Regions from separate parts of the Homo sapiens genome. Here region 2 is linked to region 1. Evidence: fine-mapped expression QTL. Tissue or cell type: blood mononuclear cells. Region 1 holds a variant in brackets; the other region holds the start of a gene. All regions are shown on one strand. Distances are between the middles of the regions.

Region 1 (6,739 bases):
GCCTCCTGGTTTCCTTGGGGCTTTTTGTCTCTGCCTGATGGTGAAAGGCTTCAGGTTTCTAACGCGCCCAGTCCAGGACAGACAGGAGACAAAAAGGAAACCTGGAGACTCCCTACACGTGACTCTGAGCCCCATCCCCCTCTTCTCTCCACCTCCCATAGCCATGCCGGCCTGACAACTCCCAGGGTTTTAACTGTTTCTAGCAGGCACAATAGGGTGAAATCCATTGCATCCTGACTGGAACTGAAGTCAACAATCATTTCTAAAACTGTAAAGGGGTCGTCCTAAAACCAAAAGGTTGACAAATGCTGCTCCATAATGGGGACTTCCGTGGGTCCCCATGGGGACGTCGCCTCCATAAAACCCAGGATCTCCCTTCACCCCAGGGAAGCCCCCTCCTACTGCCCAAATCTATATGAAGCTGAATTCTTTTTGGTGGGGGAGCAGGCCACATCTTAAAGGTAGAAGAGATGCAGAATAAGCTCATTTGTTGTTGTTCCACTCACTTCATAAAAATAACACATACCATAAATGGTTAACCACAAAATGGAACCTCTCCCTCTATATGAACAGTGTGGAAATCTGAGCAAATGTTTATATAAATCTGTTGGTGTTAACCCAGAAAGAATAGTCAATATCTTTCTTTTGCTCCCTATACCAGACACATCTCAACTCCAATTTGCTCCTCAAAACTTCTGGGAAGAATGACATGAAATTAAACAACAGATAGTCACCAAGTTTTAGTTTTAAAATAATAATGACAGCAAATTAAACTTACATTATTGGCAAACACTCGAAGGTCAAGCGCTACTGCATACATGACAGGCAGAGCCCTGCAGGGCAAAAAAGTAAACAAGTGTGAGGGGCTACGTGGGCCAAGATTCCATCCCCAGAGGTGGGAAGAACACGGACACCCAGGGCTACTATCCAGAATGGAGTCCGCACTTATCCAAAACTCTGACAGTTGTCTGCTTCCTCACCTTCTGTCCAGGCAGGCTGCAGGCCTCAGACTTCCTGATCATCCTGGGGCCCCACAATGCGGTGCTCCACACCCCTGTCCCCAACCCTGTCAGAGACCTCAGCCCTGCTTCAGTTCTGGGCTCCCAGGATATCCTCCTCCCCTCAGCTTCCCACCAGTATCCAAACAGCACCACTAAAAAAGAAGTGGTTTGATCAGATTTCCTAACAGGAACCAGAATATGTAATACACAAAATGTCACAAAACAACTTTTACAGCCAACTGGCAAAACTGGACTGTTTTCATGTGCAAGTTTTCACGTTAAAAGATAAAAGGGTGGCGGGAGGCAGAGGCTGCAGTGAGCCAAGACTGCGCCACTGCACTCCAGCCTCGGCGACTGAGCAAGACTCCTTCTCAAAAAAAAAAAAAGATAAAAGGGCGGGTTTGTTTGCAAAAGGCCTTTGGTTATTTCAGTATAAACAAATTTCAGTATTAACCTATAGTTTGTTAATAAATCATAAAATTTAGTTTGGCAAGGCATTTAAAAATACCACCATTATTATGTATTAGAACACCCCAAATGAACCGTAGTTGGTCTACCTCTTTTATCTAAGGTTTAAAACCAAAAGTTCAAAATTGACAACTGAAGGAAAAAACAGTATTTAATAAATATCTAGGGAAATGGACATCTGAAATAAAAATAATACTATATTGACATAGACACACTGCAAACAATGTGGCTGATCTACCATTTCAGTTTACTAGATTTGTGACTCCACTCATCTGTGTAGATATTACCATATGTCAACACACTGATTACCAAATATCCACATGGAAAATACAATACACATTTATTTAAAGCAAATTTGTAAAAAGATTCTGCTAAAAAAATTGCCATTTGCTAATTCAGCTGTTTCTGTTCACACTTACCAGTTTTCTTCTTTGTGGGCCTGGAATGCTCGCAAGAATGATGTACTGTATTAAGGAAGATATGGCATACAAAGTTCAAATAATGCTACGTACGATAAAAGTAAAGAATAAGAATCTAAATTTTAAGGAATGTAGATCACCCTTGAGCAGATTTATGTTGCAACAATAGTAAGTTCTTGAAGGAAAAAAGGTATAAGCTCACATTACAAATATCTGTATCTCATTAGGCTCAAGTATACTAAATACACTTATTTCATACACACTGTCTCCTAAATAAAAAAGACTTACAAGATTTTTTAAAATCAGCCCTTTCTGACATTTTATTTGGTTTCTCTGAGCCCAGATGATCATGAGTTATATTTAAGTGCTTTAGAATCTGTAGCATAAGGCTGATTTTATCAACTCTAGAATTCTTGAATTCTAAGGAGGCTGTGAGCAAATAGCCCAACTCTCTTCTGTGTATATTTAAACAAGGTGGTTAAAACGAAAAGACAAAATCTAGAGATACATACAAATCCTTAGCACACTCACTGACTCAGGCCGTAACTAAAGATACCCTTTAAATGACTGAAGTATGAATTGGTTTGATTTAAGGTCTTCAGCTGCCACAATTCAATGCCGATGTACATCTGAGGCCACTCTTGTCCATCTCTGCCTGAATTCTGGATTTCTGGTATTTCACCAACAGGACTTAACCAGTCCCTGTAAATATACTTACTACCTTACTAAAGGCAACAAAGCATTCTTCTTCTCAGCAGAGTAAGATCCTTCTTCCTAACCAGTGTTCTTCCTTACTAAGTACTGCACGAGTCTTCAGATCCATGCTAAATTTAAGTACCCAAGTGAAAGAGCTGAAACGAGCTTCTGTTCCAAAACACTGTCATTCCTTTCTAACTGCAGAAATGAGCAACTGGCCCAGTGTTTCCGGGTCTCAAGTCCCAAGTAATCCACTGCATGTGTTCTATGCGGGACAGCTGCCATGAACGACAAAGGATATTGGACTATCACGGTCTGGCACTTGTATGCCTCTATGAAGTCATGATTCCCCACTGCATAAGTGCACCTGGAGGAGAAACAGAAACATGCTGTCACACAATAAAAACCTAGCACTAGTTATGCAGCCCACACAGCTCACTTCATTGCACAGGTCCCAGTGGTCCTGGGATGAAAGGAGTGAAGGAAGAAACACACAAATGGCTGAACACAAACAGGTGAGGATAAGAGGAAGTCCCACAGTAAGCTTGGAGACTACTCTTTCAAGTCCCAGAAGGACCTAGCACCAGCAGGTTTATGAGTAACACATGTTGATAACATAGTATGACCCTTCCACTCTAGCAGGGGCTGACAATGACATTCAAACTAGATTCCCAGCTGGGTAATGTCAGTGTTAGTTCATCGCCAAATCTGGAACCTATCGCACACTGCACAGAGCTAGGAAATCACAGGTGCTTTGTACTACAAGGAACACGGTGGTGCCCCAACTCTTCCAAAGACCCTGTGGGGTTCACAGAACATTCCTGCTCACAGACCCCACACTGGTCCTGTAGCCCAGGCTGCTCTGAAAGACAGTAATCAAATCTCACATGGCTATAAGGACACAATCTTCTGCCTGAACTGATCCTTTAGAGATAAAACAGTAGATATGAAGTGTACATAAAAAGTAGCATTGTTTGCTTTGCTCAACTCTAATTTCTTTCCCAGTAACGTAAAGAGCTTCAAAAACAGACATATTTCCACGAAAAGGGTAAGTGAACAGTTCGGCTCCAAACTCTACTAAAAAGACCACT[A/G]AGCAGGCACTCTGCTAAATACTGTGTGATGTTAAAAATAGTATTATATAACTGATGTTTACAATTTCCACAGGCTTTACCAAACTGAAGTTACAAATGCATTTTCCCACTTTTTCAAAGTCAGTTATTCACTGCTTCAAGCACAAGATAATGCAAGATAAAATCCCCAGTTAATTCAGCAATTTCCAGATGTGTGTGTTTTTCTTCCTCCCCAACAGATTACCTTAAATGAGCTGCAAACATTTCATCATAAGGGGGTTCCAAGACTTGTTGACACTTCTCCTCTGGAGAGGCCATCTGATTTTAAAAAAGAAAAATAGCAAAAGTAAAATTAATAGGCACAGAAAGAATGCAACATATAGAAAGAGATTTAAACCTCTGTTTCAAGAGAATTTATGCTTTACAGTTCACAGTAACACTTTATATTTACCACTCTAAATAAAAGGTTCAGGCCGTGAGCACAGTGGCTCATGCCTGTAATCCCAGCACTTTGGGAGGGCGAGGTGGGCAGATCACTTGAGGCTAGAAGTTCAAGACCAGCCTGGCCAACATGGTGAAAGCCCGTCTCTACAAAAAAAATTACAAAAATTAGCTGGATGTGGTGGTACACGCTGGTAATCCCAGCTACTCAGGAGGCTGAGGCATGAGAATCGCTTGAACATGGGTGGGGGAGGTTGTAGTAAGCCAAGATCGTGCCACTGCACTACAGCCTGGGTGACAGAGGGAGACTCTGTCTCATAAATAAATAAATAAATAAATGGTTCATTACTTCAACAAATATTTATCAATATTTCAGGGGAAAAAGAAGCCCATGAATATAATTTGGTCTCGCCTTCTGCAAGTCAGAAAATATTCTAGGCACTTTCATATACATTTCAGTATATTAGTATTCTTGACCAGTCAGTCAAGAAATACTTGTTAAGTAACTGTCATAGGTTTAGTAAGTGAGGTCTAATGAGTTACAGATGGTGCTATGTTAGGACTCGTTCTTCTCGGCTTCCTGCTGAGACCACCAGTCTCATCTCCTGGGCTAGTCTAGCTGACATTTCTTTCTAAGTTTTCCTTTCCTCCTAACAGTCAAATTTTAGATAATCTGAACATCTCAACAGGTGATGGTTAATTTTGCCAACTTGACTAGCTGTGGAGTCCCCAGACAATGTTATTTCTGGGAGTGTCTGTGAGGGTGTTTCTGGATGAGACTGGCAGTTGCACTAGTAGACTCAGGAAAGTAGATGGCCCTCCTCAGTGTGGACGGGCAATGGCCAATCTGATGAGGGCTTGAATAGAACAAGAGGTCGAGGAAGAAAGAATTCACTCCTTGTGTGGGATTTCTTGACCTCTACAATCACAGGACCCAGTTCCTCATACTAAATCTCTATAAATATTGATATATCCCACTGGCTCTGTTTCTCTGGAGAACCCAGACTAACACACAATGGATTATAAGCACACTGCGTTTTTTTGTTTTGTTTGGTTTTGTTTACAAAAGCAATGAGCCCATGCTGATATGGTGAGAGAGAAGAATGACAGTATCAGAAAAATCACCATTCTACAGTCCCTGGTGAATGAAACCACCGAAAGAAAGTTTACTGGGGAATTTTACAATGAAGGGATCTGTCTCAGATTGCAAACAGGACAGTGTGTGTCCTCTCATGTCATACAATACAAAGCACAGGGCACCAGCCATGGGGTGTTCTGGCCAAGGCAAGCCTGAGTCTCATCGAGTCTCTAGCACTAACTCCTACTTAGAGCAATGGTTTTCAACACTGTCTACACATAGAATCACCTAGGTAACTTTATTAGAAAAACAAAAACAGGCCTGCTGCTACTTCAGAGACTGATTTACCTGGTCTGAGTTGCAAGTCTGTACACCGCCAAACATAATCACCAATAGATAAGCCCATTTTTCTTCCAAAAGAAAAATGCTGCTTCCAGTAGGAACACACTCCAATATGATAAAGGGTGTCAATGAGGAAACAGGGCTTTACCAAATGTCCACAAGATTTTCTATAGAAAATACTGCCTCAACATCATCTACGCCACAGATGACATGGAAACTCCATGTACAACCCCAGGCTGGGCCTTGGCTTGCCAGCCTTTCTGACTAACAACTTAAATGGGAGACACCTGTGGTACATGACGTCTATGGGGCTTTGGGGACGCACAGGCCTAGACAGAATCTAAGCTCCACCGCCTCTCCACCATCTAACTTCTCTAAACCTCAGAGAGCTGTCTAGGAATCAAACACAAGGGCAGGAGGTCCACATCACCACAGTGTGCGTACATAGTCAGTGCTCCACAAATGGATTGAAATTACATAAATCATAAAGAAACTTTAAAATTTTCAAATAAGAGTGACAATATTAGTTTTCTTCTTACTCAAACTCTACGCTTCTCTTAGGAAAGTGGTTACCCTGTAATTGTCTGCAGACACCTGTGTGCACAGCTCTTTCACCTACTTGAAGTCGTGGGTTTGCAACATGAGGATGTTTAAAAGACACCAACTCTGCACAAGATGCTCCATCTCTGCTGTCGATGGCTTCGTACACCTGAAACATTTGAAAGGGAAACCTAAGTAGAAAATAAAATATTCTGTTCGAATAGAACCTACAACAATACACTGAATGCCACACAGGGGAAAATTCATTTTCCCCTACTTTGAAAGAAGACAGAACAATCAAAATGTAACAGATGGTCACTACTCTCTGCAGTGGGTAAACAATAATTTCTTTTTTTTTTTTTTTTTTTTTGAGACGGAGTCTCGCTCTGTCGCCCAGGTCGGACTGCGGACTGCAGTGGCGCAATCGTAAACAATAATTTCATTTCAAAATAGGTTGTTCCTGGCTGGCTCAGGCCTGTAATCCCAGCACTTTGTGAGGCTGAGGAAGGACTGCTTGAGCCAGGAGTTCGAGACCATCCTGGACAACATAGCAAGACCCGTCTCTTTAAAACAGACCAAAAAAACAAAAACAGATGTTCCTGAAGCAAAAAAACAGGTTAAGCAAATAAAAATAAGTCAGTGGTTTATCATGTAGCTCTTCATGAAGATGAATTATTCTAATTT
Region 2 (6,739 bases), 92 kb before region 1:
AGATAAGATGGACAATCTGAGCACATCCCATGGTGAATTTCTCTCCACGCTAAGACCCCAGACAAGGGTGAAAAGCAGGACCAAGGCCCAGAGAAGAAAAATTCTGCTCAAAATCATAACTGTTCAACCTTGCATACATTCTCTCTCTTAAACTGAAAGTTAGCATCCTACAGCACTGGTGTGACACCCGGCAGGCCCGAGGGCTCAGCTGCCTCCAGCTGTGGCCCCAAGAAGGCAAAGCACCCGGGTGGGGTGGAGGGAGCAGCCCCGTGCTCTACTGGCTGACAGTGGTGCCCAGGCCCAGCTCCCTTCTCTGCACAGACAGCAGAGTTCCGCTTAGCACAGGCTTTTCCTCGCCAGTGCACACACTGTCAGCCATTGGAACTGGCCTGCAAGACAGCTTGCTGTGGCGGCTTTGCAGGCACAGGGCACACAGGCATCCGTGCACGCAGCTCCTCTGTCCTCCCATGCCCTGCACCCTCCGTCACAAGGAAACCCTTGCTTCTAGGATTGCACCAAATAGGATTTGGAACCAATTGGTGCCCAAGCTCAAATCCTGTTAGTGGCTGCCTGTTTCCCTGGCATACATGCGTCCTGCCGAGATGCATTTGGCACCAGGTGGGATGTGCTCACTGGTTCCCAAAACGAGAACACATAGCAGTTTCCCTGGATGTTTGTTCAATACTATTCCCGGGACCTGCCCGTAGATTCCAATTCCTTATGGGTGTGGAAGAGCCTGGAAATCACGTGTGTGTAGGTGTGTGGCATGTGTATAGGGGTGTGTTTATGTGGTGTGACTTTGGGGTATGAGTGTGGCATGTGTACGGTGTGTGTGAGTGTGGTATGTGTATGGCGTGAGTTTGGGTTGTGCGAGCGTGGTTCTCATGTACGAGTGTGAGCATGGAGATTCTTTGGTAGGGAAGGAGTCAGGGTCTCCCTCTGTCGCCCAGGCTTGAGTGCAGTGGCACAATCTCAGCTCATTGCAACCTCTGCCTCCCGGGTTCTCTGTCTCTGGGACCACAGGCATGAACCACCAAGCCCAGCTAATTTTTTTATTTTTTGTCTAGCTTTGGTCTTGCTATGTTGCCCAGGTTGGTCTGGAACTCCTTTCCTCAAGCGATCCTCAGTCCTCAGCCTCCCAAAGTGCTGGGATTACAGGCATGAGCCACCACCCAAGAGATTCTGATGTCACAGACATCTGACTCACACACTCCCTGGACAGCTCACGTGTGCCCACCACCACAGTCAGGGATGGCTGCAGATGAACAAGGTGCTGACGTGGTTTCTGTAGCCCCCAAACAAGCAACTTGCCTTGAGATGACAACCAAAGTTTTCCTGTGTCCTCCACACTCAAGAGTGACTGTGAGGCGGAGGGGCCCAGCCCTTCTTGCAGGCGGGAATGAGTGGATGGGTGGATCAACAGAGGCTGCCACAGGAGAGAGGGAGGCCTGGCCTGGGAACAGAGCTGTGACCGTGCCCTTCCCCAGGGTAGGGGCTGAAGGACCCTCCCATCCTAGTGACAGGGCCACAGCATGTCCAAGGAGGCCCCAGAGGAGGTCCCGGGAGTCCTGGGAGAGCCTGGTTAGCCTCCCTGAAGGGAGGAAGTGGGGTTTTGTGAGAGGGATGGTGCAGCAGCCCCCACACCTGCTACTCCGTGTGGCCGGGTCCAGCCCCAGGCAAGGTTCCAGGCATGCCCCTGGGACAGACGTGGGAGGGAGACCAGCAGGCAGGTCCCCCTCAGGGAGGTATGGAGCGGGTCCCCGGGGCCAGGTGGAGCCCCTCACACCTGTGTCCTCAAGGACCCACACCAGGACAATGGCCATAGGCGGGCACCTGCAGCCGCCCTGGCCAGCAGTGAGACGGGCAGAGAGCCCAGCCAGATAGCCCGGTTCCTGCCCCCTCCCGCCTGCCCGCACAGAGAGGGCTGCATGCAGGTGAGGGTCCATCACCTGAAGAGCTTCACCAGCCCCGAGGCCATGAGCCACTGAATCTCTCAGGGGGTTTTGGCGCTTGAGGTTCCCCAGGTCATTCTGCTGCCCAGAGAGGGTTGAGGACCTCTGACCTGGAGCCCCAAAGGGGAAGGGTACCCTAAGACCAGCCAGCCATCTACTCTCAGGTGGGAAAGGGGTAGGGTTTAGATATGGCCCCCTCCCCTCCACGTCCTGAAATTACCTTGGGCTGTGCTGGCCGAGAGCCGCGGGGACCAGATTTGAGCTGGACGTGAGCTTTATTCCAGACGGAGCAGCTACTTTGTAAGCGATCTCCCTGGGATCGATATCATGGAGGGGCACAGATGGGCTTCAGCTGTGCTGGGTGGAAGAGAAAACATGCCCTGTCGGCCCCTCAGCAAGTGCTCTGCTCTCTGGACTGAGATGCAGGTCAGCAGCAAGCAGGGAGGCTTTGGGGGTGCTGGGGGCTGCTTTGAAAGGCACCCCTGAGCTAAGACTTGGCTGTTGGGAAGGAATCACCTCCCTCCCTCCAGCCGTAAAAAGAACTGGACATCAGCTTCCAAAGAAGTCATCAGCAATGCAACTGTTCACATGGAGGATACTCCCTGCTTGAGGGGTCAGACAGGCCTGCTGGGCAACCCAGGAGGCTTGGATGACCGTCTACCCCAGTGTTTTTGGGATGGAAAGTTCCACATTCTGAGAACCCTCAGTCCCTGGGCAACCTGGGGTGGTTAGTCACCACAGCTTGTGGCTTGGGCCCATGACAGCAGGTAGAAATGACGTGGACTGCCGCCAGCCGGGCACAGTGGCTCACGCCTGTAATCCCAGCACTTTGGGAGGCTGAGGCATGTGGATCACTTGAGGTCAGGAGTTCGAAACCAGCCTGGTCAACACGGTGAAACCCCATCTCTGCTAAAAAAAAAAAATATATATATATAAATTAGCCAGGCATGGTGACGTGCACCTGTGGTCCCAGCTACTCAGGAGGCTGAGGCACAAGAATCACTTGAACCCGGGAGGTGGAGGTTGCAGTGAGATTGCACCAGTGCACTCTCCAGCCTGGCAACAGAGCAAGACTCTGTCTCAAACAAACAAAACAAAACAAACAAAAAGACGTAAGATGTGGACCGCTGGAGAATGGGGGTGCTGCCTGCAGTCAAAACGGAGTGGGGGTGCCCAGCTCAGGGCCAGAATGATCCTATTCCCGGCACTTCTCAGTGAGGCTCTGTGGCTCACCTAAGAAACCAGCCTCCCTTGCAGGCAACGGCCTAGCTGGCCTGGTCTGGAGGCTCTCTTCAAATATTTACATCCACACCCAAGATACAGTCTTGAGATTTGACTCGCATGATTGCTATGGGACAAGTTTTCATCTGCAGTTTAAATCTGTTTCCCAACTTACATTAGGGGTTTGGAATTCTAGATCGTATTTGAAGTGTTGGTGCCACACACACCTTAACACCTGCACGCTGGCAACAAAACCGTCCGCTCTGCAGCACAGCTGGGGTCACCTGACCTTTCTCCTGTCCCCCCCACTTGAGCTCAGTGGCTGGGCAGCAGGGGATGCATGGCCACTGGCCGGCCAGGTGCAGCTCTCAGCTGGGGTGTTCAGAGGACGCCTGTGTCCTCCCCTCCCCCATCCCTCTGTCACCCTTGGAGGCAGAGAACTTTGCCCGTCAGTCCCATGGGGAATGTCAACAGGCAGGGGCAGCACTGCAGAGATTTCATCATGGTCTCCCAGGCCCTCAGGCTCCTCTGCCTTCTGCTTGGGCTTCAGGGCTGCCTGGCTGCAGGTGCGTCCGGGGAGGTTTTCTCCATAAACTTGGTGGAAGGGCAGTGGGCAAATCCAGGAGCCAGCCCGGGCTTCCCAAACCCCGCCCTTGCTCCGGACACCCCCATCCACCAGGAGGGTTTTCTGGCGGCTCCTGTTCAATTTCTTTCCTTCTAGAAACCAGCATCCAGGCACAGGAGGGGAGGCCCTTCTTGGTGGCCCAGGCTTTGGCGGGATTATTTTTCAAAGAACTTTAGGAGTGGGTGGTGCTTTCCTGGCCCCCATGGGCCCCTGCCTGTGAGGTCGGACAAGCGCAGGGAGTCTGGGGCCTCTCAGAGTGCAGGAAGTGCGCACAGGGTGCTCCCAGGCTGGGGAGCACAGGTAGGGGACGGTGCGTGGGGGATGGCGCCTGGGGCATGGGGGATGGGGTGTGGGAAACGGCATGTGGGGCGTAGGGGATGGGGTGTGGAGGATCGGGGGTGGGGATGGCGTGTGGGGTGTGGGGGATGGGCCGTGGGGGGGTGGGGCCTGGGAAACAGCATGTGGGGCATGGGGTGTGGGGGTGAGGTGTGGGAAAGTGTGTGGGGTGTGGGGGATGGGGCATGGAAAGGGCGTGTGGGGTGCAGGGGATGGGGCATGGAGGTGTGGGGGATGGGGTGTGTGGGGTGTCGGGGATGGGGCATGTGGGGTGTGGGGGATGGGGCATGGAAAGGGCGTGTGGGGTGCAGAGGATGGGGCATGGGGGGGTGGGGATGGCGAGTGGGGCTGGGGCCTGGGAATGGTGAGTGGGGCATGGGGATGGCGAGTAGGGGGTGTGGCGTGAGGATGGCTAGTGGGGCGTGGGGATGGCGTGTGGGGATGGCGAGTGGGGGGTGGGCTGTGAGGGACAGTGCCTGGGATGTGGGGCTGCAGCCCTAGCTCACAGCATGGCCTTATGACCCCGGCCACCTTCCTGCCCCAGGCGGGGTCGCTAAGGCCTCAGGAGGAGAAACACGGGACATGCCGTGGAAGCCGGGGCCTCACAGAGGTGAGCAGGGACTGCCACTGGTTTTGTCCTGGGGCCCAGTGGGGGCCAACATCACCTCCTTCCCCTCCCATGGCAAAGAGCCAGCCCGCGGGGTGGCTACTGCAGTGCCCCCCAAGGAGGGTGTTCCCTGCTCGAGAGGAAGTGACCGCTCCAGCTTGGCCTTCCCTGGGACTGGGGTGCAGGCGATTTTATCTTCTTTGCTCCATTCTGTTCCTTCCAGATAATCGTGTGTTCTTCATCAGGTTTTCCTCAGTTCTTGAGAGCTTTTCTGATGCAAATCTGCTTTCACCCCAGGGCGGTCACCGGCTCTGCTCACACCAGCCTCCAAGGGTGTGGGTGTCCCGGGAGTGTGGGTGTCCCGGGGGCGTGGGTGTCCCAGGAGTGTGGGTGTCCCGGGGGCGTGGGTGTCCCGGGAGTGTGGGTGTCCCGGGGGCGTGGGTGTCCCGGGAGTGTGGGTGTCCCGGAGGCGAGGGTGTCCCGGGAGTGTGGGTGTCCCGGGGGAGTGGGTGTCCCGGGAGTGTGGGTGTCCCGGAGGCGAGGGTGTCCCGGGAGTGTGGGTGTCCCGGGGGCGTGGGTGTCCCGGGAGTGTGGGTGTCCCGGGGGAGTGGGTGTCCCGGGAGTGTGGGTGTCCCGGAGGCGAGGGTGTCCCGGGAGTGTGGGTGTCCCGGGGGAGTGGGTGTCCCGGGAGTGTGGGTGTCCCGGAGGCGAGGGTGTCCCGGGAGTGTGGGTGTCCCGGGGGCGTGGGTGTCCCGGGAGCGTGGGTGTCCCGGGGGCGTGGGTGTCCCGGGAGTGTGGGTGTCCCGGGGGCGTGGGTGTCCCGGGAGTGTGGGTGTCCCGGGGGCGTGGGTGTCCCGGGAGTGTGGGTGTCCCGGGAGTGTGGGTGTTCCGGAGGCGAGGGTGTCCCGGGAGTGTGCGTGTCCCGGGGGCGTGGGTGTCCCGGGGGCGTGGGTGTCCCGGGGGCGTGGGTGTTCCGGAGGCGAGGGTATCCCAGAAGTGTGAGTGTCCCAGGGGCGTGGGTGTCCCGGGGGTGTGGGTGTCCCGGGGGCGTGGGTGTCCCGGGAGTGTGGGTGTTCCGGAGGTGAGGGTGTCCCGGGAGTGTGGGTGTTCCGGAGGCGAGGGTGTCCCGGGAGTGTGGGTGTCCCGGGGGCGTGGGTGTCCCGGGAGTGTGGGTGTTCCGGAGGTGAGGGTGTCCCGGGAGTGTGGGTGTTCCGGAGGCGAGGGTGTCCCGGGAGTGTGGGTGTCCCAGGGGCGTGGGTGTCCCGGGAGTGTGGGTGTTCCGGAGGCGAGGGTGTCCCGGGAGTGTGGGTGTTCCGGAGGCGAGGGTGTCCCGGGAGTGTGGGTGTCCCGGGGGCGTGGGTGTCCCGGGGGTTGTGGGTGTCCCGGGAGTGTGGGTGTTCCGGAGGCGAGGGTGTCCCGGGAGTGTGGGTGTTCCGGAGGCGAGGGTGTCCCGGGAGTGTGGGTGTCCCGGGGGTGTGGGTGTCCCGGGGGTGTGGGTGTCCCGGGAGTGTGGGTGTCCCGGGGGAGTGGGTGTCCCGGGAGTGTGGGTGTTCCGGAGGCGAGGGTGTCCCAGGAGCGTGGGTGTCCCGGAGGCGAGGGTGTCCCGGGAGCGTGGGTGTCCCGGGGGCGTGGGTGTCCCGGGAGTGTGGGTGTCCCGGGGGAGTGGGTGTCCCGGGAGTGTGGGTGTCCCGGAGGCGAGGGTGTCCCAGGAGTGTGGGTGTCCCGGGGGCGTGGGTGTCCCGGGAGTGTGGGTGTTCCAGAGGCGAGGGTATCCCAGAAGTGTGAGTGTCCCGGGGGTGTGGGTGTCCCGGGGGTCGTGGGTGTCCCGGGAGTGTGGGTGTTCCAGAGGCGAGGGTGTCCCGGGAGTGTGGGTGTCCCAGGGGTGTGGGTGTCCCGGGGGCGTGGGTGTCCCGGGAGTGTGGGTGTCCCGGGGGAGTGGGTGTCCCGGGAGTGTGGGTGTTCCGGAGGCGAGGGTGTCCCGGGAGTGTGGGTGTTCCG

Evidence for each region. PIP is the estimated chance that this variant, and not a neighbour inherited with it, causes the effect.
Region 2: F7 starts here. The variant in region 1 is fine-mapped to the expression of F7 in blood mononuclear cells (TOPMed, PIP 0.99).

Annotation. Positions count from the first base shown.
Region 1 is chr13:113,194,293-113,201,031 of GRCh38, forward strand. PCID2 (PCI domain containing 2) reads right to left here. Exons shown (of 14, transcript NM_001127202.4): 2 at 6,135-6,224; 3 at 3,899-3,972; 4 at 2,886-2,951; 5 at 1,889-1,930; 6 at 779-833. Among named protein-coding and RNA genes, the nearest start is that of PCID2, 11 kb to the right of the region's middle. The variant A/G (reference allele first, on the strand shown) is at 3,676.
Region 2 is chr13:113,102,167-113,108,905 of GRCh38, forward strand. F7 (coagulation factor VII) reads left to right here and starts at 3,625. Exons shown (of 8, transcript NM_019616.4): 1 at 3,625-3,739. The coding sequence starts at 3,676.